Homo sapiens: one gene and its partners. The protein of the gene in region 1 purifies or fractionates together with the protein of each later gene. This does not show direct contact. Each region holds a gene or a part of one and is shown in the gene's direction. Other genes may lie near its edges. The genes, in order: PRDX4, TULP3, PSMB7, PPP2R2B, TLN1, RCN2 and UGT2B7.

Region 1 (3,500 bases):
GTAGGAAATACATTTTTCGTTGTCAGCCAGTACACAGGCACATATATATACGGTAACATTCCATCTGGATGCACCAGCACAGCCATGCTCCTTAAAATACTGAAAAACCCTCATATCATGTGGTAAATAGCCACTTCCCTTTCCTCACCAACTAGTTAGTCCTCCTGCCTGATCCCTTTCAGAAACCTCCAGAACTAAAGCCAGCTTTGAGTTAAGATTGTTAAATATTTTGAATATCATCACTGTTGAAGACAAACATATATATTTGTATATATAAATATGTGTTTCATAATTTACCCTTAGTATGTATGATAGAGTCTCCTGTTTTCTATTCGATTTCACTTTTTAAAAATATTTTTTAGAACTCAGTTAATTTAAGGAGTCCCTACCACGGTTTGAAAAAATGCCACCCTAGTAATATTCTGTAAACATGGCCTGACAACATGAGGGTATTAAGGTATAAAATCCCTGGCTGCACAGGACTGGTAGACAAGGTGGAAGAGGACCTTATCAAGAAAGGAGGGGTGGGGGTACTGGAAAACATTGCCTCCTCTCCAAAATACACATAGATGCATCTAATTCATAGGGTTGGTATAGGAATATTAAAAAAAAAATAGTGAAATGACATAAAATTTGTATAGATCCTTTGAAAGCTATAAAATACTATATAAATAAAAGGTATTATTAAATAAAAGTAATAAAATGAGGGGTGGCTATTGCTATAAGGGAGAAGGGAACATTGGTTGACTACTGATCTATTAAGTTGTAATAAGAAAGTTTATTGAGATGTAGTTGGGAACTCTGTAATATGTTTCTGTCTTAAATATTTGATTAAATGACAGTCTTTTAGACTACTCCATTTTGAAAAGGTTCAAATATAAAATTGTTCTTAATGTGCATTTTTATTATTAAAGGTATTTGTAAAAATTGTCATTTGAAAGTTTAGGTATATGCTTATTTGGAGAATACTGAATATTTTTTTTTTTTTACCTTTCAGCACATTTGTGTGTCCAACTGAAATTATCGCTTTTGGCGACAGACTTGAAGAATTCAGATCTATAAATACTGAAGTGGTAGCATGCTCTGTTGATTCACAGTTTACCCATTTGGCCTGGTCAGTATCTTACACTTATATTCGTAGAAAAAAAAGAATGGATTTACTCTTAAAGCATGGACAGATAACTCTTGATATGATATAAGAATATAGTCATTTATCAGACAATTCAGGAATAGCTTTATCTAAGAGTAATACATGTAACTACACATTTTCCAGGTTAAAAAAAGAGAGAAGAGTAATATAATCAGCTGCTATAATAAAAATGCTTAAGGATTTTATAGGACATTTCAAAATAAGGGGAAAAGTTAAATGCAATAGATGTGATTTCTATAGCGAAAACCACTGAATTATATGCTTATGATAAATTGGGTTACCATAATCTGGAGGAAAAAAATCTTTAAAATATGCCATTTCTCTGTTACACAGTTATATAGTCAAACTCAGCTTTTACAATTTTGAAGAAACAATACTTTTTAAAAATGAATTTTAAAAAATGTTTAAAAATTCATTAATCATAAAAAGATGTTTTACCTAAATTCGTTATAAAGAATTGCAAATTAAAATGACGAGATGCCAATTTTCCCTGTCTGGTTGGCCAAGATTTAAAAGATTGAAAAAATGTATCCACTGTGGACAAAAATTGAAGAAACGGCACTCACACACAGCTGTTTAGCATTTCTGGAGAGCAGTTGGGCAACATGTCTCAAAATTGGAAATTTACATGTTAATATGAGTTTTTATAGTGTCCACAGTCTTGTGCAGAAAACTTTGTGCACAATAAAGACCATTCAGAATTGGGCTGGGCACAGTGGCTCATGCCTCTAATCCCAGCACTTTGGGAGGCCGAGGCAGGCAGATCACCTGAGGTCGGGAGTTCGAGACCAGCCTGACCAACATGGAGAAACCCCGTCTCTACTAAAAATACAAAATTAGCCAGGCGTGGTAGCAGGTGCCTGTAATCCCAGCAACTCAGGAGGCTGAGGCAGGAGAATCACTTGAACCCAGGAGGTGGAGGTTGCAGTGAGCCGAGGTCACGCCATTGCACTCCAGCCTGGGCAACTGGGCAATGAGAGTGAAACTCCATCTCAAAAAAAAAAAAAAAAAAAAAAAAAAAAAAAGATTCAGAACTATTGGTTTTAAAACATAATATTCAATTTATTAAAGTTACAAATTTGAAACACAAGCTTTTCTCATTTATAATCTGTGTGTGTATAACAAATTTTCATTGCTTGGTGAGCTACAATTTAATTAATTACATTTCCCTAAGAAATTAATTCCCATAAGTATTTTTAAATGCAGTTATATATTTAATATATTTGAATTCCTTAAGTATCTCAATTTTCAGACAAACCTTCCCAAATACTTAAGTAGTTCTAATATGCCAAATTCTCTTAAACATTATAAATAACTTAACATATAAATATGTACTGATTATTTCTTAATGTAAAAATATTAAAATAGCCTGGCATGGTGGCTCACGCCTATAATCCCAGCACTTTGGGAGGTCAAAGCAGGAGAATCATTTCAACCCAGGAGTTCAAGACCAGCCTGGGCAACATAGTGAGACCCCATCTATACAAAAAATAAAAAAAATTAGCCAGGTCTGGTGGTGCATGCCTGTGGTCCCAGCTACTCGGGAGCCTGAGATGGAAGGATGACCTGAGCCTAGGTGGTCGAGGCTGTAGTGAGCCAAGATCATACCACTGCACTTCAGCCTGGGCAATAGAGTGAGATCCTGTCTCAAAAAAAAAAAAAAAATTAAAATATAGGCTTAATTTGCTTCATCATTTCCTTTAAAAAAAGAAAGACAGGGTCTTACTATGTTGCCCAGGCTGGAGTGCAGTGGCACAATCAATCATAGCTCCCTGCAGCCTTGAACTCCTGGGCTCCAACAATCCTTCTACCTCCCCAAATAGTTGGGACTGCAAGCTTGCACCACCATACCTATTTTAATTTTTATTTTTGTAGAGATGGAGTCTTGCCATGTTGCCCGGGCTGTGCTTCATCACTTCTGTAGTAATTATAAATCTTCCGAGGATTAAAATGCATATCCACTAAGGAAAAAGTTATGGCATCCCAAATAATTTGGGATTGCTTTCCCAAGGAAATTTGGGGATACATTCTCAGCCTGATAGGGTTCACATCAACCAGAAATTTCTACTTGGGTGTCAGAACTGGGGCTCCAGATATCTAGAGCAATGTCGTTTTGTTTTCTATCTGCTGTGTCAGTACCCTCCTGTTAGAGCATCAGCCCATGTCTCCTGGTTTCAAGTTACAGAATACAGATTGAGCGTCCCTAACCTGAAATCCACAGTGTTCCAAAATTCAAAATTTGAGTGCTGACATGATGCTCAAAGGAAATGCTTAGTGAAGCATTTCAGAGTTCAGATTAGGGATGTTCAACCAGTAAGTATGCAGATATACCAAAATCGGAAAAAATCCT
Region 2 (3,500 bases), on another chromosome or scaffold:
GCCTCAGCCTCCCAAAGTGCTGGGATTACAGGTGTGAGCGACCAGGCTTGGCCTATTTTCTTATATCAGAAATGTTTAGTGAAAATTGGAGGTGAAATTTGAAACAACACTCAGGACCTTTGTTGAGGCTAGGCATTTTATAATATAGATTCCCTGGAGATGACGGGGGTTGGCTGGTGCTGGAACTTGAGCCCTATCTGGCCTTTTGTAAGTGATAGAGAATTGAGAATTGAAGGCGTGCTTCCCACTGTGGTGTGACCTTGTGAGCTGGAGTCATCTAAGAAATCCCAGTCGGTGGTTTGTCCATATACCATGATTTCTCTTTAGAAATATAAACAGTAGGCTGGGCATGGTGGCTCACACTTGTAATCCCAGCACCATGGGAGGCCGAGATGGCGGGGGGGCGGGGCGGGGGGGGGGAAATCACCTGAGGTCACGAGTTCAAGACCAGCCTGACCAACATGGAGAAACCCTATCTCTACTAAAAATGCAAAACTTAGCCAGGCATGGTGGCAGGTGCCTATAATCTTAGCTACTCAGGAGCTGAGGCAGGAGAATCGCTTGAACCAGGGAGGTGGAGGTTGCAGTGAGCCAAGACTGTGCCACTGCACTCTAGCCTGGGTGACAGAGCAAGACTCCGTCTCAAAAACACACACACACACACACACACACACACGCACGCACACAAAAAAGAGATCTGTCAAGATAAAAAGCTCAATAATAGGCTAGGTGCAGTGGCTCATGCCTGTAATCCCAGCACTTTGGGAGGCGGAGGTGGGCAGATCACGAGGTCAGGAGTTCAAGACCAGCCCAACCAACATGGCGAAACCCTGTCTCTACTAAAAATACAAAAATTAGCCAGTTATGGTGGTGTGTGCGTATAGTCCCAGCTACTCCGGGAACTGAGGCAGAAGAATTGTTTGAACCTGGGAGGCGGAGGTTGCGGTGAGCCGAGATCACACCACTGCACTCCAGCCTGGGCGACAAGAGCAAAACTCCATTTGAAAAATAAAATAAAATGAAATAAAAATAAGAAATAGTGAAAATAAATAACATTCCCGAAGAGAGAAAATATAACCCCTGAGAAGGGAGAATTGGGCAAAAGTTAAAACGAACTTAAGTTCTGAGTAATGTCTGTTTGAATCTACAAGTAATAAATGCATTCTTTTAACTTCTGGATTAAATCATACATCTTAAATAGCCTTTTTGTTTAGTTCACTCAAAAGAATGCTTTTTGCTTTTGCTGTGTGGTACTTGCAAAATCAGGAGGGGTTTACTCTAAAATAGTTTTCCCTGCAGCATTCTTTGGGGCTATGGGAATGCTCAAATCAGCGGCCAGCCTTTGCTTCTCATTGCCTCCCTCTCCCCAGGCAGTTCTCCCTGCTCTGATTGTGTCTCTACTAAATGGGCCTCCTAGGAAATGGATGTTCATTCCCTGGCTTCAATTAAGTTAGCTCCAGATTGTGGCCGTCTTTCAAGTAGAGGACAGCTGAGCTTAGAATACTAACATTTCTCCCTAGATGAGGAAGGATAGATGTCAAAGGAATTCTTTTCTGACACTTCTCATATGACCTTTATGTGTCTTTTCTCAGAAGCAATATTTTGTTCAAGCCAGATGTGTTCTTGGTGTGTCAGTATGTGTAAAAACATGGCCTTCGAATATTGACATTTAGGATTTGGACAAGGTGAACCTATTTGTCAATTGAGTTAGGAAACATACTTTGTTAATAGCTCTTTCCACAATTATCTGAAATTGTTATCAGTTTGAACATGATGAAATCTGATGCCTCTTTCACTCTATACAGTTATTTGCCACTTAATGATGGGGATGCATTCTGAGAAATGTGTCATTAGTGGATTTTGTTGTGTGAACGTCATAGTGTACACAAACCTTGATGGGATATCCTACTACCTACCTAGGCCCTGTGGTACAGTCTGTTGCTCCTAGGCTACAAAGCTATACAGCCTGTTACTGTACTGAATATTGTAGGCAATTGGAACACACTGGTAAGTATTAGCATATCTAAACATAGCAAAGGTACAGTGAGAATACTTTTTTTTTTTTTTGAGACGGAGTCGCATCTTTGTTACTCAGGCTGGAGTGCAATGGCATGATCTCGGCTCACTGCAATCTCTGCCTCCCAGGTTCAAGTGATTCTCCTGCCTCAGCCTCCCAAGTAGTTGGGATTACAGGCGTGCACCACCATGCCCAGCTAATTTTGTATTTTTAGTAGAAACGGGGTTTTACCATGTTGGTCAAACTGGTCTTGAACTCCTGACCTCAAGTGATCCACCCGCCTCTGCCTCCCAAAGTGCTGGGATTACAGGCGTGAGCCACTGTGCCTGGCTGACAATGTGGTGTTATCATCTTAGGGGACCCCTGTTGTATATGCAGTATGGTTGACCTAAATGTCGTTATTCAGGGCACTCCTCCCCAGGGCTGCTTAAAAATCCATTCACTGGCTTGGAAGTTCTACCTAAAAATAGCAAGTCAGCTGGCATTTTTAATGAACATATTGAAATACCAGAGAATGAAATTCCTGTCTCTGCTGACCATTTTAATACACGTGTTCAGTCGTGTGGTTTAACACATTCAGGTAGATTGGGAGTGAGACTTGTGATTGAATTTGGGCTCTTTCGCTGATCAGCTGTTTGACCTTTAGAATATGAACTATAGTTGTAAGTTTAAAATTGCTTTCCTGTGATGTGTAGAAAATAAGGCTGTAACAAAGCAAGAAATATTTTTCAAATATGCTCCTGGAAAAATAAAATTATTGCTATTTAGCTTTGCAGGAAGAAACTTCAATAAATCTACAAGGTAGGTGCTATAATCTCATTTTACAGAGAGATATGAAACTCATATGAAAGGAGTTCACCTCCTTTCTCCCGAAATTCATTTAGAGCATCTATGAGTTTCATATCTGTCTGTAAAATGAGATTATAGTGCCTACTTTGTCAAGGTTATCGTGAAAATTATCACACATCATATGTGAAAAATAATATATATTTAATATAATTCCTGGCAGGCAGTATTAAATATTCACTAAGTAGAACTGTACTTAAGTGCAACTAGCAGAGTGACAACACATTTTAACAATGTTTCAATAACAATACAATTTTGGACTTTTAAATTTTTTTTTTGGAGTCTCGCTCTGTCGCCTAGGCTGGAGTGCAGTGGCAGGATCTCGGCTCATGGCAACCTCCACCTCCTGGGTTCAAGCAGTTCTCCCTGCCTCAGCCTCCTGAGTAGGTAGGATTACAGGTGCCTGCCACCACCCCTGGCTAATTTTTGTATTTTTAGTAGGGACAGGATTTCACCATGTTGGCCAGGCTGGTCTCGAACCCCTTACCTCAGGTGATGCACCTGCCTCGGCCTCCTAAAGTACTGGGATTACAGGCATGAGCCACTACGCCCAGCCTAAAGATTTTTTTAATACAGGGGAAATTATTAGAAATTTCTGGGTTTCCAACATTCGAAAGCTTTTGAAAGGTGATAAAGT
Region 3 (3,500 bases), on another chromosome or scaffold:
CTTGAATGGGTTCTATACTAGGGCATTTCAAAATGAAAATAACTTTTTAAAATTATAAAAATAATATAATTGTAAAAAACGTAGACACTAGAAACCTGGATAGAAGGAAGTAAATGCCACCTGATGTTCTGCCACTTAGACACATACACTGTAAATTTTTGAAGATCTGTTTTTTCATACCTTTTGTTCTAGATATATATCCTTGTATGTGTTGTTTTGTAATTTCCCTTGTTTACATAATGGTATGTTACAAATATTGTTCCTGTCAGTAGATGAGTTTTTCTCTTGAGCCCATAGAGAAGTTCTGAATACTTGTAACTCTCCTGAAATCAGAAAAAATGTTTGTGTGTACTCTTATGGGGGAAAATTTCCACAATTTTAATCAATTTTTAAGAGGGCTCTCTGACCCATAAAAGCTTAAGAACCATTAATCATTATCATAATTTTTGGTGGTGTCATAGTATCCGTTTTGTGGCTATGTTACAACTTAACCAATTTTTAAACATTAATGATATTGCCCATTTTAAGGTATTTAAGGTATTATTAGGTATTCTACGAACCTTTGGAACATAGAAGCCTTGGGTACTCATGTGATTTAATTCCTTAGCCTGTATTCTAGAATAAATGCACATTTATTTAGTTTTGCACATTTAACATTTTGAAAGATGTTGTCAAAGCTCTCCCTTGACAAACGTTGTACTACCGTCAGTAGCGCAGGAGAAAATGCAGCATGGTTGTTAAATTTTATTTTAGTTTAGATAGGGTCTCTTTCTGTTGCCCAGGCTGGAGTGCAGTGGCATGATCATGGCTCACTTAAAGGCAGTGCATGGTGGATGACTTGAGCCTTAAAATTCTAGGCTCAAGTCATCTGCTCGCCTCAGCCTCCTGAGTAGCTGGGACTAAAGGCCCACGCCACCATGTTTGTCTAATTTTTTGTTGTGTTTGTTTTTTTAAACTTTTTGTAGACGATGTCTCACTATGTTGCTTAGGCTGGTCTCAAACTCCTGGCCTCAAGTAATCCTCCTACCATGACCTCCCTAGGTTTTGGGATTACAGGTGTGAGCCACCACACTCGGCTTAGCATGATTTTTAATGATTGGGTGATGTTCTGTTGTACAGTTGGATCAGTTTAGCCATTTCTCCCTGGCTGTTTCCACTTTTTTAATCATCATAAACAATGCTGTTGTAAACATCCTTGTGCATTCATTTCTGTACATTTGTCTGTTTATATCCTTAGAATAGAGTCCTGGTAGTAGAATTTGTGGATCAATAAATTATTAAAATTTTAATGACTTCAATAATTTGCCAAAACATCTTGATTATTTTAAAGGCATCTAACAGTTGATATTTTAGCTTAGAAGGCAAGTAGCTGATTATTATTAACTTTATTTAAACACCCTGTTCAGTAGACAGTTGGCATAGTGGAATAGGCACTGGACTAGTTGGGGGTGGTGGGACTGGCGATTGTGGCTTCTCTTCCTGGAGCCCTTGGCCCTAGTCTGACCCTGCTGCTAGCTCACACGTGGGGCCTTGGACCAGTTTCTTCCCTTGTCTGGGGCTCTATTCTCTTTTTAGGCTACTGCTAAAATCTTTTCCTAGGAAGTTTTTGAAGTTTTTACTTACAAATGAAATAACAATTTGGTAATCAAGGAACAGGGCAAGTATTGGACCACTGTTCTGTTTACTTAGAGCACTTCTGGATGTGTGGCCATGTCTCAGACAGTCTAAAGTTATGACTTTGGTTCTCATGTTAATTTATTTGTATTTTAATGATTACATCGTTTGGCAAATTCAGTATGTGTCAGTTTTGTTTTCCTTCCCAAAGAGCTAAAGGCTCACAGTGGAGAACTTTAAATCCAGCATGTTTATCTAGCACAGCTAGATAAATTGAGAGCAATTTATGTTGACAAATGTAGATCTAATTCTTCTTTTGATTTTTTTTATTTTTTATTTTTTGAGACTAAGTGTCACTCTGTTGCCCAGGCTGGAGTGCAGTGATGCGACCTCGGCTCAGTGCAACCTCGGCCACCCAGGTTCAAGCGATTCTCATGCCTCAGCCTCCCACGTTAGGAGTAACATTGGCCTCCTAATGTTAAAAAGCTGTACCAAATACAGGGAAAGGAATCTATAGAAATGGAAAAAAAGGGTCCAAAGGAACAAATATGTGCACAATTAAGTGGAGATGGTGTGGGTGGAAAATATATTCCTGTGATGTTCCTGAGGAAGTGTAAGTTTATCCTATGTGTAGTAGCAGTGGTTTCTTAGGCTATCATGGAGTTATTTTAATATTCACTTTCCTGAATGATGAAATACTTTTTTTTTGATACGAGTTCATATATGTAATTATAATATGGGTTAATTCAAAGGCAGAGGTGTTTCGACATGAGCCATTTTTCTGTTTGGGCTGTGGTGAGGTTGATACTTTTTTTTTTTTTTTTTTTTTTTGAGACAACTCTTGCTCTGTCCTGGCTGGAGTGCAGTGGCGTGTACATGGCTCACTGCAACCTCTGCCTCCCAGGCTCAAGGGATCCTCTCACCTTAGCCTCCCAAGTATCTGGGACTACAGGTACATGCCACCATGCCTTGCTAATTTTTTGTATTTTTTGTAGACAGGGTCTCGCCATATTGCCCAGGCTGGTCTTGAACTCCTGGACTCAAGTGATTTGCCCACCTCAGCCTCCTAAAGTGCTGGGATTATAGGTGTGAGCCACCATGCCTGGCCTTTGTGGCCAGGTTGATAATTTGAACAGTGGAACAGCTGAGCTTAGCACCTCCTCATTGTTAACTGTGGAGGTAGCTTATGTGCTGATCACAGAGAGGTGTGATGGGAAAAGTGCTGATAATCTTTGGAGTCAGTCCAATTTGGTTCTGAGACCGGGCAAGTTCTTAATGTCTCTGGGTTGGTTTTTTCTTTTCTAAAATGGGAATGATAATGTTGTCTTTTAAAGGGGACTGTGGGCTGGGTGTGGTGGCTCACACCTGTAATCCCAGCACTTTGGGAGGCCAAGGTGGGAGGATTGCTTGAGTCCAGGAGTTTGAGACCAGCCTGGGCAATTTGGCGAGACGCCATCTCTCCAAAAAAAAATACAAAAATTAGCCAGGTGTGGTGGTGCACACCTGTAGTCCCAGCTACTTAGGAGGCTGAGGTGGGAGGATTGCTTGAGCCTGGGGAGGTTGAGGCTGCAGTGAGCCGTGATAATACCACTGTACTGCAGCCTGGGTGACAGAGTGAGACCCTGTCTCAAAAAAATAATAATAATGGGGGCTGTGAGGCTGAGCTGAAATCAGGTGTGTGGAGTGCCTCACATAATTTATAGTTTATACTGGCTGACAGTAGATGTTCATCTAATGTTCCCTTCCCTTTTTTGTTCCCATCAAAACAATAACCCCTTAATGAAACAGTCTTAAGGAAAACTTTTTGTTACCTGACTTCTCATGCAACTTTTGGCTAAGTTACAGTGATGCTTTGTGGACTCATGTTTTTTTTCTTATGCATACTC
Region 4 (3,500 bases), on another chromosome or scaffold:
GCATGTAGATGGAAGTTACTGATCAGAAAACAAGCCCCAGTAATGACCCATAAGCTCAATGAATTAAAGATTCATTGGTTGCCTGGGATGTGTCAGGCAGCCAGGTTCTAGACAAGGGGCTGGAGTTACTAAGATATTTAAACCACTGGCCCCTGCCCTCCAAGAGATGACACTCACATAGGAGAAAGTGCATATTTGCATACTGTAAACATTTTTACAATGAGATATCTATGAAGGGCAGAAGTCATACAGAGGAAGAAATAGTTAATCAATGAGTGATAAGAAAAGGTTCTCAGAATGTGTCATCTAAGCAGAATTTTAACTAAATTTGCTCAACAAAGCATGATACAGCGTTTCCAATAGGTAGACCAACATATACCAGAATATGAAGCAAAATCCATATGGCATGGAAACAGAAAGCCAATGTTTCTCTCCTTCCATTAGAAACACATTTTCGACATACTAGAACTAGCCTACCCCTTTTTCCTTTTGTTCATCCAATAACAAATATTTATTAAACCTTATTTTAAGCACTGTATTTAAGTGTAAAGTAGACGGAAAGAATAAAAGGAAACCAATATTTCCTGAGTAGTTATTGCAATGACAGGCATTGGGAGAGGCACTGTTTTAAATCATTGTTAATCACCTGATAGGTAGATGTATTATTCCATTTTTATAGCGAGAAACAGACTCAAAAGGGTTAGATGACGTAGCAGGAAGTTTTATCTAGATCTATCCTGTTCCAGATCCTATACTTCTTCCATCACAGTTATTGGTAATGCAGAGTTACCTTGGCTTGATTATTTTCCCTAGCGTGGATACTCACAAACACGCCATTTCTCTGTGACTAAATATTGCCTGACAGCTGACCAAGAATACAAATTTGGTCTGTCATCAAAGCAGAGAGTGAAGTCAAGTGGCTCACAGGTCTCCAACTTCTGACTTTGACCTTATTATGACTGATTAACTGTCCCCCAATTTAGATATTCCATGCCCCATTGGTTAAACTGCTGGTGGCAGAACCATCATGATCTGCCATCTCCGCTGATCCCTGCCTCAGCTGCAATCAAAGCAATGATCACTGTCAGGCCAGAAGAAGGGGCTTAGCCACTGCCAAGACAGATCCCAGTCCACTCCCAGCCTTCCCGCCCCTGCTGCTCATTCCCCAAAAAGTCAACCTGGGTTTTCCTGGGTGAACAGTGCCCACTGAACAGCTCCTGCTTGCCCATCTCAAGCCCTCTCAGTTGCCACTCCAATCATTTTGGCTGCTGTATTTGGTTTGAGAAAGAGTGGAGAGGACACTTCTTCATAACTCATATTTGACAGAAACCCAGAAATTGTAGGAACAAGCCATGATTGCTGTGATTCTTGCTCTGGTTGGCTAGGGATGCCCTCCCTTCCAGCCAGAGTAATACATACTTGTGGGAGTCATGGAAGACTGAGGAAGCTGGAGTAGAAGGGAACAGGGGCTTTCCTCAGTGGTAAAAGGAAAAGCAACATTTTGGAACTCTAAACAGTTGCTCAGTTGGGCGAATTTCATGCATTCATTCATTCATTTACTAAATGGTTAATGATTGTTCATGTACTGCCTGCCAAGCCCATGCCAGGGTGGTCTGTGGAAGCAGCAGTGACAGCTCCATCTTCACACAGCTCACAGATAGCGGGAGGTGCAGACAAACTCACAGGCAATGGTGGCAGTGGAATGTCAAGAGCCCAGGATACCGAGCCTGCCAGCCTGCCTGCCTGGGTTAAAATCTGAGCTCCACCATGTAAAAGCTGAGCAACCTAGAAAAATGACAACCTCTCTGTGCCTCGATTTTCTCATTATGAGATAAGGATAAAAACGACATCTATCTCATAAAATTGCTGTGAAGATTGCATGATTTAATATGCACAAAGCTCTTAGAAGGATGCCTGGCCCACAAATATGCATTCAGTGCACATTTCTTGCTACAGTTCTGCTAATCCTATAAAACATATGCACTATGATGGATGTGTCTGGGTGCCAGGAGGACACAAAGGAGCACTAACTCATCCAGACCAGAAGCTTCCCAGAGGAGGTGATTCCCAAGGTGAAATCCGAAAGATAAAGGGAGTGAGTTATCCAGGAGAAGAGAAAGGAAAAGCATATTCCAGACATCAGGATAGGACAGTGGAGGCAAAACAGCATATGCTATATATATATGGAATTCACAACACTCTGGTATGACTGATTAGTAAAAAGTAGGAAGGCAGACCAAGAGAAATAAGGAGACATGGTAAGGTGAGTGGGCAATAATGCATGATCTGAAAAATAATAATGCATGGACTTAGTGTGGTTCACATATCAGGAGCTTCTCCAATAGCCAGGCTATGAGGCACTAAAATGAGGAAATATGGTTTCCAAACTTCGCAAATACTTATAGTCCAGCCACAGGGGATATACTGATAAACTCAGCTCAAATGTCACCTCCTCAGAGATGCTTTCTCAACCACCCTTAGTTCCATGAGGACTGCATCATTGTTTAGGCCACTCCTGTATCCCCAGAGCACAGAACATTGTCTGGCTCATAGTAGGTGCTCAAAAGTTTTGTTGAATGAATGAACAAATAAACGTGTAAGGAAGTCAGGCACAGCACTTGCCCACAGGAAGCTTATAAGATGAGCGGCATGCCATTGGGAGTTTGAATGATATATGGAGATCCAAACAGGGCATCAGAGGACTGCTCAGAGGAGTCAGGGAATTAAGAAAAAATTGGGAGCCAGTGAGCCAAGATGTGTTAAAAGCAAGTGATCAAGCTTAGATTGCAGTGTTAGTTAATAGAGCATATGTGTCCCTGCCTGATGCATTACCTTCCCTGCAGTAGTTAGCCTTCTGGGACCCTGAAAAGCATGCAGAAAGGTTGACAGCTTACAATCAATACCATGTTCACTGATGCAGGAAGCAACATTATCACATCCAAGATATTGCCCCCACACCCAGGCTGCAGCACTAAATATTCCCCATAACAAGGCAAAGGGAAGTGACAAGAGCTATTATTCTCAACCCTCCCACTTGGAAACAAGAGGTGAGACAAACCTTCCCCTAGATGTTCTTAGGGAAAGGCAAGACCCCCAAAGAAATCTTTCAGAGCTGAGCACATGCCTAATACAGCAAGACAGGGATGGGAGAAGATTGGCATTTTCATTTGCCTGGGTGTCCACAATATTGCAGGGGAAGCTCTGTGGGCAGCTGGGAAATACAACAATAAATTGGAGGGGGATGAACAATAGGGTCAGTGGGGCTGTGTGCTGAGTGAATGCTGGATTTTATTCTACATGCCCAATTCACTCCAATAAGATAAACTTGACTTCCTCCAGTGTGGCTTTCTTATTTCAGCTTCTCTGACTGTGGCATAATTGAAAGTCATATTTCATCTAGACCATTGGTTTTCAACTCCAAATGCAGGTGGCTTATGAAGACTCAGCCTGAATATATAAAGAGAACAGCAAACAATCATAGTTGCATATTAAAGACAATC
Region 5 (3,500 bases), on another chromosome or scaffold:
CATGGTTGCACTTTCACTGAAGATCAGCATTGGGAATGTGGTGAAGACGATGCAGTTTGAGCCGTCTACCATGGTGTACGACGCCTGCCGCATCATTCGTGAGCGGATCCCAGAGGCCCCAGCTGGTCCTCGTGAGTCTGACTCCCCCGGTGGCTGGAGTGGGAGTCTTCAGTCCCTTCTTGTTCCCAGGCTCTCGGCCTTGAGAGTTGACCCCTTTGTCCCCTAAGACTACTCACCCCTCAGGTCTGTGTTCCATGGTTCCCTCGTTCTTTAGGCCCAAGGTCATGGGAGAAATAGTCAGGGGCAACATGGTACAAGCTGTTCAGCCACATTGGGGTCTTCATAAGCCTAAAGTGATCCATCCTCTCTTTTAGCCAGCGACTTTGGGCTCTTTCTGTCAGATGATGACCCCAAAAAGGGTATATGGCTGGAGGCTGGGAAAGCTTTGGACTACTACATGCTCCGAAATGGGGTAAGTATCCTTTCATCAAGGACCACCACATCCCCTTCCATCAGCTTCTCCCTGTTCCACCTCCTGTTTTCAGCACCCACATCTGTTGTCTCTTAGCCCTCCCCATGCTTTCTTCCTATTAACAGACAGTCATAATTCCCTGCTTTTGAACGAACCACCATAGTCTTCCTTTCAGTGCTCCACTCTCTCCCCTCGGGCTGTGTAAAGAGGAAATAATACCCCTAGCTCAGAGTAGGCCCCTGTCTCTTCTTCCTGCCCTAACAGGACACTATGGAGTACAGGAAGAAACAGAGACCCCTGAAGATCCGTATGCTGGATGGAACTGTGAAGACGATCATGGTGGATGACTCTAAGACTGTCACTGACATGCTCATGACCATCTGTGCCCGCATTGGTAAGGGGCCCTAGTACAGTTGAAAGCCTGGGCCAGAAAGCCTCAACTCTCTCAAAAGGCATGGATGCAGTACCTGGGAAGCTAACAAGCCATCTCCTTCCTCAGGCATCACCAATCATGATGAATATTCATTGGTTCGAGAGCTGATGGAAGAGAAAAAGGAGGAAATAACAGGGACCTTAAGAAAGGACAAGACATTGCTGCGAGATGAAAAGAAGATGGAGAAACTAAAGCAGAAATTGCACACAGATGATGAGTGTAAGCAGAACTAGAAAAAAGAGGGCTTTTGAAATGGGAAGGGTGGGAAGGGGCTTCAGCATCTGCTTCTGCCAGGCACTGTTTTACACCCTGGGGATACATCAGTGAGAAAACAAAGTCCTACACTCATGGGACTTACATTTAAGTGAGGGGAGGTAGGAAATGCAGAAATAAACAGAGACCAGACAGCACAGGGGCCATGGGGGTTTGGCACTGAGGGGACTGTCTGTATCCCAGTGAACTGGCTGGACCATGGTCGGACACTGAGGGAGCAGGGTGTAGAGGAGCACGAGACGCTGCTGCTGCGGAGGAAGTTCTTTTACTCAGACCAGAATGTGGATTCCCGGGACCCTGTACAGCTGAACCTCCTGTATGTGCAGGTATGCAGAGGACTTGGCTGGGGTGGGGCAGGAATAGGGAGGGCTCGGAAGCACAGTGTGCGTGTCCTTGCACCCACACACAACATTCGCCTCCTTGCCCTGTGCTCTCCAGGCACGAGATGACATCCTGAATGGCTCCCACCCTGTCTCCTTTGACAAGGCCTGTGAGTTTGCTGGCTTCCAATGCCAGATCCAGTTTGGGCCCCACAATGAGCAGAAGCACAAGGCTGGCTTCCTTGAGTGAGTGACCCACATCCTATACCCTGTCAGGGCCCAGGACTCCCTGCCATTGTGACCCCAGTGGGCCTGTCTCCATTCCAAGCCTGCCCCCCACTATTTCTTCTTCCGAGGTACCAGGGTTTGACCAACATAGCTACCCTTTTAGTTGCCATCATCCATTGTCTCTTCTCTGCCTCTGGAATATGAATGTAGTTCAGTATCTCTGCCCCTACCCCCATCTCTGAAGCAAGCATGTCACTCTTTTTTGAGATTATCTGAAGAATTTTGCTGCAGTAGCCAGAGGGAAACCGGGTAAAATTTTCCCTATAGGGAACATGGGTTAAAAGTCTCACAAGCCTCATCTGCTGGTGTTTCTTGGAATGCAGAGTTTGGCGTGGCTTTCTCAGCTTCCTAAGTGCATGTTCATCCTTCTAGAAAGCTCTTTCTCCTCTTGGTTCCCTGAAATGGTGCTCTAGACCCACTTTCCCTCAGGGACTGAGCCTCTAACTTAATTTTCCTCAGTCCCTTTCCCTACAGGGAGAGACACAGGTCACATTAAGAATTCATACTGGCCAGGCTCGGTGGCTCACACCTGTAATCCCAGCACTTTGGGAGGCCAGGGCGGGCAGATCACCTGAGGTCGGGAGTTCGAGACCAGCCTGACCAACGTGGAGAAACCATGTATCTCTACTAAAAATACAAAATTAGCCAGGCGTGGTGGCACATGCCTGTAATCCCAGCTACTCGGGAGGCTGAGGCAGGAGAATCACTTGAACCTGGGAGGTGGAGGTTTTGGTGAGCTGAGATCGTGCCATTGCACTCCAGCCTGGGCAACAAGAGTGAAACTCCATCTCAAAAAAAAAAAAGAAGAGTTTACACGAAGTCACCTCTATTTCAGAAGATAATCTAGACTCTATTCCCTCAGAGTCTTTTTTCTCCCCAAAGATAACACTGTCCTAGGTATTTCCTCATACCCCCAGGCCCACAGTTCATGGCCCACATGTCCCCTGATGCTGTCTACCACATGCTGACCCTCCCTTTTCTGGTGTAGCCTGAAGGACTTCCTGCCCAAGGAGTATGTGAAGCAGAAGGGAGAGCGTAAGATCTTCCAGGTGAATGTGGGTAGGGGAAAGTATTTGGGATGACCGCGGAGCTTTGCTGCTTAATCTTACTGACTAAATGGCCCCCTGCCTCCTCCCCGTCTCCCCTAACTTGGCTTTCACCCACCGGGCTGTTATCCCACCTCACCTCTGCCAAGAAAGCAGACAGCTTGGGCTTTTAGTCTCAGCTCCATCCCTGCTTTTGCTGTGCAATTCAGTTCAATATTCTTGTAATCTTTTATTTACCTCTGATTTGGGATAACAGTACTTGCCCCGTGTAGGACTGATAGGATCAAATGAGGTAGCATAATCTGAAATTACTGTGAAAGAGTATAGTCTTTGTCCACTATAAGGTGTTACCCCCACTCTGAATACTCAGCCCAGAAGGCCTTCTCTTTGCCCTTCTACTTCCAAACTCTCTGTTCATATCTCCAGAATGTCTGCAAGTTCCTTGACTGTATCCCTTGACTCATCGCTTCTGCATAGCCCTTATCAGCCTCCATCCCGTTACCCTCTCGTTCTCATATCTTGTACTCCTCAACCTTTCCAGTGTCCCCATAATTCTCTCTCGTTAGAGTTAGCATCCAACCTTAATTCCTTAGCTGTGATATGAAACTCTTTGCTAAATTCTTCCCCATTTTATGCACAGGCACACAAGAATTGTGGGCAGATGAGTG
Region 6 (3,073 bases), on another chromosome or scaffold:
GAGTTCAGGTACAACTTCAAAGGGGAAAATTGAATGGGATGTGCACATGTTGGCTCATATGTAGTTCTGATTGGGCCAATTTGCAGGACAGAAAATGATGTCTAGATTATGATATAAATTTAAAGGAAGCCAGGACGTTCAGAGGAAAAGCTAGCATATCATGTTTGCCTTACTTAGTTCTTTCCTTTGCAGTTTTAAAAATAGGCTTTTTTTTTTTTTAGTGTAGTTTTATGTTCACAGCAAAATTGAGCAAAAAGTAGTATAGAGAGTTTCAATATGTCCCCTGCCCCACATACGTACAGCCTCCCCCACTATCCTATCCTATATGTCATGAGATAGTACCTACCAGAGTGGTACATTTGTTAAAATCGATGAAACTGTTAACATATCATTGTCACCCAAAGTGCATAGTTTACATTAGGGTTCACTCTTGGTGCTGCACATGCTCTGGGTTTGGACAAATGTATAATTACATATTCCCACCATTGTAGTGTGGTAGAATATTTCCCTTGCCCTAAAGTCTTTCTGCTCCACCTATTCATCCCTCCCTTCCCTGTAACCCCAAGCAATACTGATCTTTTTACTGTTCATAATTTTTTAGATTGTAGTAAAATACACATAACAAAATTCATCTTAACAGTTTTTAATTGTACAGTTCGGTGGTATGGTATTAAATACAGTCAAAATGTGAAACTATTACCACCTTCCATCTCCATGAACTTCATTTGTAAAACGGAAATTTATACCCATTAAACAATAAAGCCCCCTTTCCCCTTCCCTTCAGCACCTGGCAAACACCATTCTAGTTTTTTTGTTTGAGATGGAGTCTTGCTCTTGTTGCCCAGGCTGGAGTGCAATGGCATGATTTCGGCTCACTGCAACCTCTGTCTCTTGGGGTCAAGCGATTCTCCTGCCTCAGCCTCCCGACTAGGTGGGATTACAGGCGGGCACCACCATGCCCCCTAATTTTTTGTATTTAGTAGAAATGGGGTTTCACCATGTTGGTCAAGCTGGTCTCGAACTCCTGATCTCAGGTGATCCACCTGCCTCAGCCTCCCAAAGTGCTGGAATTACAGGCGTGAGCCACCGTGCCCAGCCTCCCATTCTAGTTTTCTTTTTCTTTCTTTTTTGAGACGGAGTCTCACTCTTGTCATCCAGGCTGGAGTGCAGTGGTGCGATCTCGGCTCACTGCAACCTCCACCTCCCAGGTTCAAGCGATTCTCCTGCCTCAGCCTCCCAAGTAGCTGGGATTATAGATGCCCGCTACCACGCCCGGCTAATTTTTGTACTTTTAGTAGAGACGGGGTTTCGCCATGTTGGCATGGCTGGTCTCGAACTCTTGACCTCAGGTGATCCACCTGCCTCGGCCTCCCAAAGTGCTGAGATTACGGGCATGAGCCACCGCGCCCAGCCCCATTCTAGTTTGTGTCTATTAAAATAGACTCATATAGTATTTGTCTTTTTGTGAGTGGCTTCACTTAGCATAACGTCCCCAAAGTTCACCCATATTGTTACCAGAATTTCTTTCGTCAGGCTGAACAATACTTTATTGTTTGCATATACCACATTTTGCTTATCCATTCACCCTTTGATGGACACAGGTTGCTTCCACCTTTTATTGTGAATAATGCTGCCATGAATATGGGTGTACAAATATTTCTTTGAGATCCTGCTTTTAGTTCTTTTGGATATATATTATACATAGAAGTGGGATTGCTGGATCATATAGTAATTCTATATATATATATATATATATATATATATATATATATATTTTTTTTTTTTTTTTTTTTTTTTTTTTTTTTGAGACGGAGTCTCGCTCTGTCGCCCAGGCTGGAGTGCAGTGGCGCGATCTCGGCTCACTGCAGGCTCCGCCTCCCGGGTTCACACCATTCTCCTGCCTCAGCCTCCCGAGTAGCTGGGACTATAGGCGCCTGCCACCGCACCCGGCTAATTTTTTGTATTTTTAGTAGAGACGGGGTTTCACCGTGTTAGCCAGGATGGTCTTGATCTGCTGACCTCGTGATCCGCCCGCCTTGGCCTCCCAAAGTGCTGGGATTACAGGCGTGAGCCACCGCGCCCGACTAGTAATTCTATTTTTAATATTTTGAGGAACTGCCATAGTGTTTCCCACAGCAGCTGTGCCATTTTGCATTTCCACCAATAGTGCACAAGAGTTCCAGTTTCTTTACATCCTTACCAACACTTGCTATTTTCTGTTTTTTTTTTTTTCTTTTTTTTTTTTAATAGTAGCCATCCTGTTGGGTGAGACGTGGTATCTCGTTGTGGCTTTGATTTGCATTTCCCTAATGGTCTGTCTCTACAGTTTTGCCTGTTCCAGAATATCATTCCTTTGCAATTTAAATGTGAGGATAAATGTATGCTATTGTTTCTCAAACGTTTTTGTGTTACAATACCTCCTTTTGAGTGAGAAATGTCAACTCAAACTTACACTTTTTCACTTAGGAAGATGATTTAGGAAAGCCACTTAGAGTAAAAGTTTTTAAACAACTGTAAAAACTAATTTGCTTCATTGCAACATTTGAGTTCTGTCGAATAAATATTTGGCCAGATTTCCTGCCTGCTATAAAATTTTTTATAACTAGTAACCAATTACCTAAGGGCCTCCAGTGCAGCTACTAAAACGTCTCTATTTTATTTGGCGGGGGGGGGGGGAAACACCTCAATCCAAGCACAAAAAAAACAAGTACTGCTGAATACCTACAGTTTGCCCTATCTTTATCTCAAATTAACCAGTTAGTTCCTGAGCTGTAGAAAGGAAACCATTTGAGCTTATAAAACTATTTTAAAGTGATTATGGGGATTTTTAAAAATCTCATAGCTTTTAATCATGATTTTTCATACCTTAAAGAAAAAAACCCTACTTTTGCTTTCTGTTCCACAGAGATATTTTTCTTCTGAGACCAGGTTCCAATGAACAGAGGGCATCAACATTTTGCTCAGTTATTGTACCATTAGCAGTGATTGGTAACCTAAGTAGAGAGACTGTTCCATTACAATGACACACTAAAAGCATAAACTAAGGTCTTTTTGTGCCAGCTGCTGGCCTGTC
Region 7 (3,500 bases), on another chromosome or scaffold:
ACCATATTTTCTCTATTCAGCCCATAATCAATGGGCATTTAGGTTGATTCCATGTCGTTGCTATTGTGAAAAGTACTGCAATTAATACACCTGTGCATGGGTCTTTATAAAAGAACCATTTATAGTCCGTTGGTTATATACCCAGTAATGGGATTGCTGGGTTTCATGGTATTTTTACCTCTAGGTTTTTGAGGAATCGCCAGTCTTCCACAATGGTTGAACAAACTTACATTCCCACCAACAGATTATAAGCAAGCCTTTTCTATACTACCTCACCAGTATCATGATATTTTTTGAGTTTTTAATAATAGCCATTCTGACTGGTGTGAGATGCTATCTCATTATGGTTTTGATTTGCATTTCTCTAATGATGTTAAGCTTTTTTCTTTTTTTTTTTCATATGATGGTTGGCCACACGTAGGTTTTCTTTTAAAAGGTGTAACAATTTTTTAAATGCTTGAAATTTTCATTGATAATCTGATTTTTTCTAAGGTACTATTTTGGAAAATCATGATTTCCTTATATACCTAACTAATTATAAAAGTTGAGAAAATTAATGTGAGTATTCTATTTACATTAGTCTTTGAGTAGTTCTTATTTACTAACATCCCTTGATCTCATTCCTACTCTTTATACAGTTCTCACATTCTATAACTTTTGAATTCCACTCATGGAATAAAATATTTTCTTTATTGTAACAGGTTCTGTGGAGATTTGATGGGAATAAACCAGATACCTTAGGTCTCAATACTCGGCTCTACAAGTGGATACCCCAGAATGACCTTCTAGGTAAGACTCTGGTGAACAAATACTGAATATATTAGTAACAGCACATTAGAGTGTTAATAGTTCATCATGAAACAAGCTTATTGAATATTTGTTAAGGAAAAACAAAATGTAACTTCTTTATATTGATTTTCCAGTCTTAAGGGAGAAAGAATACATTATAATTTTTGGCATTTTATGATATACACCCACATTCTTTATAGTCTGAATCGGGGGAATCTTTATTTCAGGTGTTATTATATCTCACAAAATTTTTCAATAACTTCCTGGGCTGTCTCTCTGTCTCCTATTTCTACAACTTTACACCTGTTTTTTTCCTCTCCCGCAGGGTTATTTGAAATGCCACTAAAAATAATAGCTCTTCTATCACCAGTGACTCTGTATTTTCTGAAGAATTAAACTGCTAATCTTAATCATACAGTGATGATACATTTCACGATGAAGTGTGACCTGTCCTTCCTCAATCCTAGCACCACCACCAAACCACTGCCTGCTGCCTTGCCCACCCCATATATCACACTCTGTGACTGCACTTAAAATAAGAGTTCACTTCATGCCTATCTCTTTGCTGTCTTCTTTTTTGCACATTTTTGAAATCTAGAATGCAATTTTTCATTAGCCCAACTGGAAATCTTGTATTGTTTTGCAGTCTGAAGTCACACACACCGTATAGCCTTCAGTTACATACCCAGTACAAGTACGTGTTTTTTCCTCCGAAGTCTGAAACACAATTTTAATTTAGTTCAGTGTTTTAGCTGGAAAACACTGTCACTTTCAGAGCCTTTCATTGTGCATCTCATTTTATTCCTATGAGTAATTTTGCTAAAATTCATCCAATCCTAGGTCATCCAAAGACCAGAGCTTTTATAACTCATGGTGGAGCCAATGGCATCTACGAGGCAATCTACCATGGGATCCCTATGGTGGGGATTCCATTGTTTGCCGATCAACCTGATAACATTGCTCACATGAAGGCCAGGGGAGCAGCTGTTAGAGTGGACTTCAACACAATGTCGAGTACAGACTTGCTGAATGCATTGAAGAGAGTAATTAATGATCCTTCGTGAGTAGAACAATATTTTTCACTAGGTGGTATTTACAGATAGCTTCTCTTGTCAATAGTGAGTGTGAGTTTCATCCTTTTTATAAGAGACTAATTTTGAAAGAATTTAAATGATTTAACCAATCTGAAATCTGCTTTTATTTTTATAAGTTATTTAAAAATTGAATTTGAAACACATACATCTAAAGAATAGCCAGTTAGTGAAACAATTTTCTACACAAAAATAATTTTAAAAGGATATAGATAATACAAAAAATACATTTCTTAAAAATTTGACATAATTAATCCATAGAAGAAAGGAAGAATAAACCTGAAATAATATAATAAAATATTTTAATTAGATATCTAAAACACCTCAGAGTATAACCATTTTCTTGCTGAAAAATTAACTTTTATTATTATCATTATTGTAACAGACTTGAAAATGAGATTTAATTTTGATAGCATAAAACCCCCCTGTTTATGTTATAAAATCCAAATATATTTAGTATGTTTACAGAGCCATGAAGCCATCACTATTACATAATTTTAGAACATTTTTATCAACACAAAAGAAACTGCAATGACACAGAAGTCACTTCCTATGACCGCTTAGCCCTGGTCTAACTAATTTGTTTCCTTTCTCTATAGATTATTCTCTTTAGATATTTCATATGAATGGAATCATACAGTTTAGGGTGTTGTGAAATGACATTTCACCTAGGCTAATTTTTTGTTGTTTTTTTTTTCTGGTTTTAGTTTCATTCATGTTGTTGTGTGTTTTAATACTTCATTTCTTTTTATAGCAGTTTAATATTTTTTAGTAAAGATATGTCATATTTTAGTTGTTCACTTATCAGTTCATTGGCCTTTTGATTGTTTTCAATTGTGGCTATTAGGAAGATTGCTACACATGTTTTTGCATAAACATGTTTTCCTTTCTTTAGGGTTGATACTATAAGTGGAATTGCTGCTTCATGTGGGAACTGTATGTTTATGAAGAACTGCTAAACTGTCTTCCAAAGTACTTGTTTCATTCATGACTACCACCAGCAGTACAACATGGTTCCAATTCCTCCATACTTTTGCCAAACCTGTTATTCCCTGACTTTTTGTTACAGCCTTCTTAGTGGGTGTAAAATGATCTCTCATCCTGGTCTTGGATTGCATTTTCATTACGGCTAAAGGTGTTGAGAATCTTCATACGTGCCTACTGATCATTCATATATCTTCTTTGAAAACAGTCTATCCAATCCTTGGAACATTTTTAAACTTTGCTATTTGTCTTATTATTAAGTTTAAGAACTATTTATATATTATGGGTCATGTCAGATATATAACTTGTAAATATTTTGTCCCACTCTGGGTGCACTAAATTTTACTTTTTGATGTTGGTCTTTGAAGCACAAAAAATATAATTTTAAGTTAAATTTTTAATAATTGATTTTTTCAAACCCAAAGATATCAATGTGCAAAATTCCTTGTGGAGTCCAGCTACCATCAATTCAGCATTTATAGCTACTATCAATAATGTTTTTTTATATAAGCAGGGTATCATCTAAAGGAATACTTGAAAAATACTTTATCACAAAAAAAGAAGGATAATGAATGATAAAAATACCTTTAAAGAAGATAGGAAATAATTGAAAAAGAACACAAACCAGCTTGGACA

What was found.
Region 2: the proteins of PRDX4 (region 1) and TULP3 purify together in Homo sapiens (co-immunoprecipitation; one study listed by IntAct). This does not show direct contact.
Region 3: the proteins of PRDX4 (region 1) and PSMB7 fractionate together in Homo sapiens (co-fractionation; one large-scale study listed by BioGRID). This does not show direct contact.
Region 4: the proteins of PRDX4 (region 1) and PPP2R2B purify together in Homo sapiens (pull-down; one large-scale study listed by IntAct). This does not show direct contact.
Region 5: the proteins of PRDX4 (region 1) and TLN1 fractionate together in Homo sapiens (co-fractionation; one large-scale study listed by BioGRID). This does not show direct contact.
Region 6: the proteins of PRDX4 (region 1) and RCN2 fractionate together in Homo sapiens (co-fractionation; one large-scale study listed by BioGRID). This does not show direct contact.
Region 7: the proteins of PRDX4 (region 1) and UGT2B7 purify together in Homo sapiens (co-immunoprecipitation; one study listed by IntAct). This does not show direct contact.

The regions. Positions count from the first base shown.
Region 1 is NC_000023.11:23,673,993-23,677,492, forward strand, and holds part of PRDX4 (peroxiredoxin-4 precursor), read left to right. Parts: intron 1-997; coding exon 998-1,114; intron 1,115-3,500. UniProt on the Homo sapiens protein: Thiol-specific peroxidase that catalyzes the reduction of hydrogen peroxide and organic hydroperoxides to water and alcohols, respectively.
Region 2 is NC_000012.12:2,893,891-2,897,390, forward strand, and holds part of TULP3 (tubby-related protein 3), read left to right. Parts: intron 1-3,500. UniProt on the Homo sapiens protein: Negative regulator of the Shh signaling transduction pathway: recruited to primary cilia via association with the IFT complex A (IFT-A) and is required for recruitment of G protein-coupled receptor GPR161 to cilia, a promoter of PKA-dependent basal repression machinery in Shh signaling.
Region 3 is NC_000009.12:124,405,443-124,408,942, reverse strand, and holds part of PSMB7 (proteasome subunit beta type-7 precursor), read left to right. Parts: intron 1-3,500. UniProt on the Homo sapiens protein: Component of the 20S core proteasome complex involved in the proteolytic degradation of most intracellular proteins. This complex plays numerous essential roles within the cell by associating with different regulatory particles.
Region 4 is NC_000005.10:146,581,758-146,585,257, reverse strand, and holds part of PPP2R2B (serine/threonine-protein phosphatase 2A 55 kDa regulatory subunit B beta isoform), read left to right. Parts: 3' UTR 1-3,500. UniProt on the Homo sapiens protein: The B regulatory subunit might modulate substrate selectivity and catalytic activity, and might also direct the localization of the catalytic enzyme to a particular subcellular compartment.
Region 5 is NC_000009.12:35,722,196-35,725,695, reverse strand, and holds part of TLN1 (talin-1), read left to right. Parts: 5' UTR 1-1; coding exon 2-131; intron 132-374; coding exon 375-472; intron 473-736; coding exon 737-866; intron 867-971; coding exon 972-1,124; intron 1,125-1,361; coding exon 1,362-1,504; intron 1,505-1,616; coding exon 1,617-1,744; intron 1,745-2,774; coding exon 2,775-2,835; intron 2,836-3,472; coding exon 3,473-3,500. UniProt on the Homo sapiens protein: High molecular weight cytoskeletal protein concentrated at regions of cell-matrix and cell-cell contacts. Involved in connections of major cytoskeletal structures to the plasma membrane.
Region 6 is NC_000015.10:76,951,821-76,954,893, forward strand, and holds the end of RCN2 (reticulocalbin-2 isoform a precursor), read left to right. Parts: 3' UTR 1-2,573; downstream 2,574-3,073.
Region 7 is NC_000004.12:69,106,474-69,109,973, forward strand, and holds part of UGT2B7 (UDP-glucuronosyltransferase 2B7 isoform 1 precursor), read left to right. Parts: intron 1-701; coding exon 702-789; intron 790-1,629; coding exon 1,630-1,849; intron 1,850-3,500. UniProt on the Homo sapiens protein: UDP-glucuronosyltransferase (UGT) that catalyzes phase II biotransformation reactions in which lipophilic substrates are conjugated with glucuronic acid to increase the metabolite's water solubility, thereby facilitating excretion into either the urine or bile.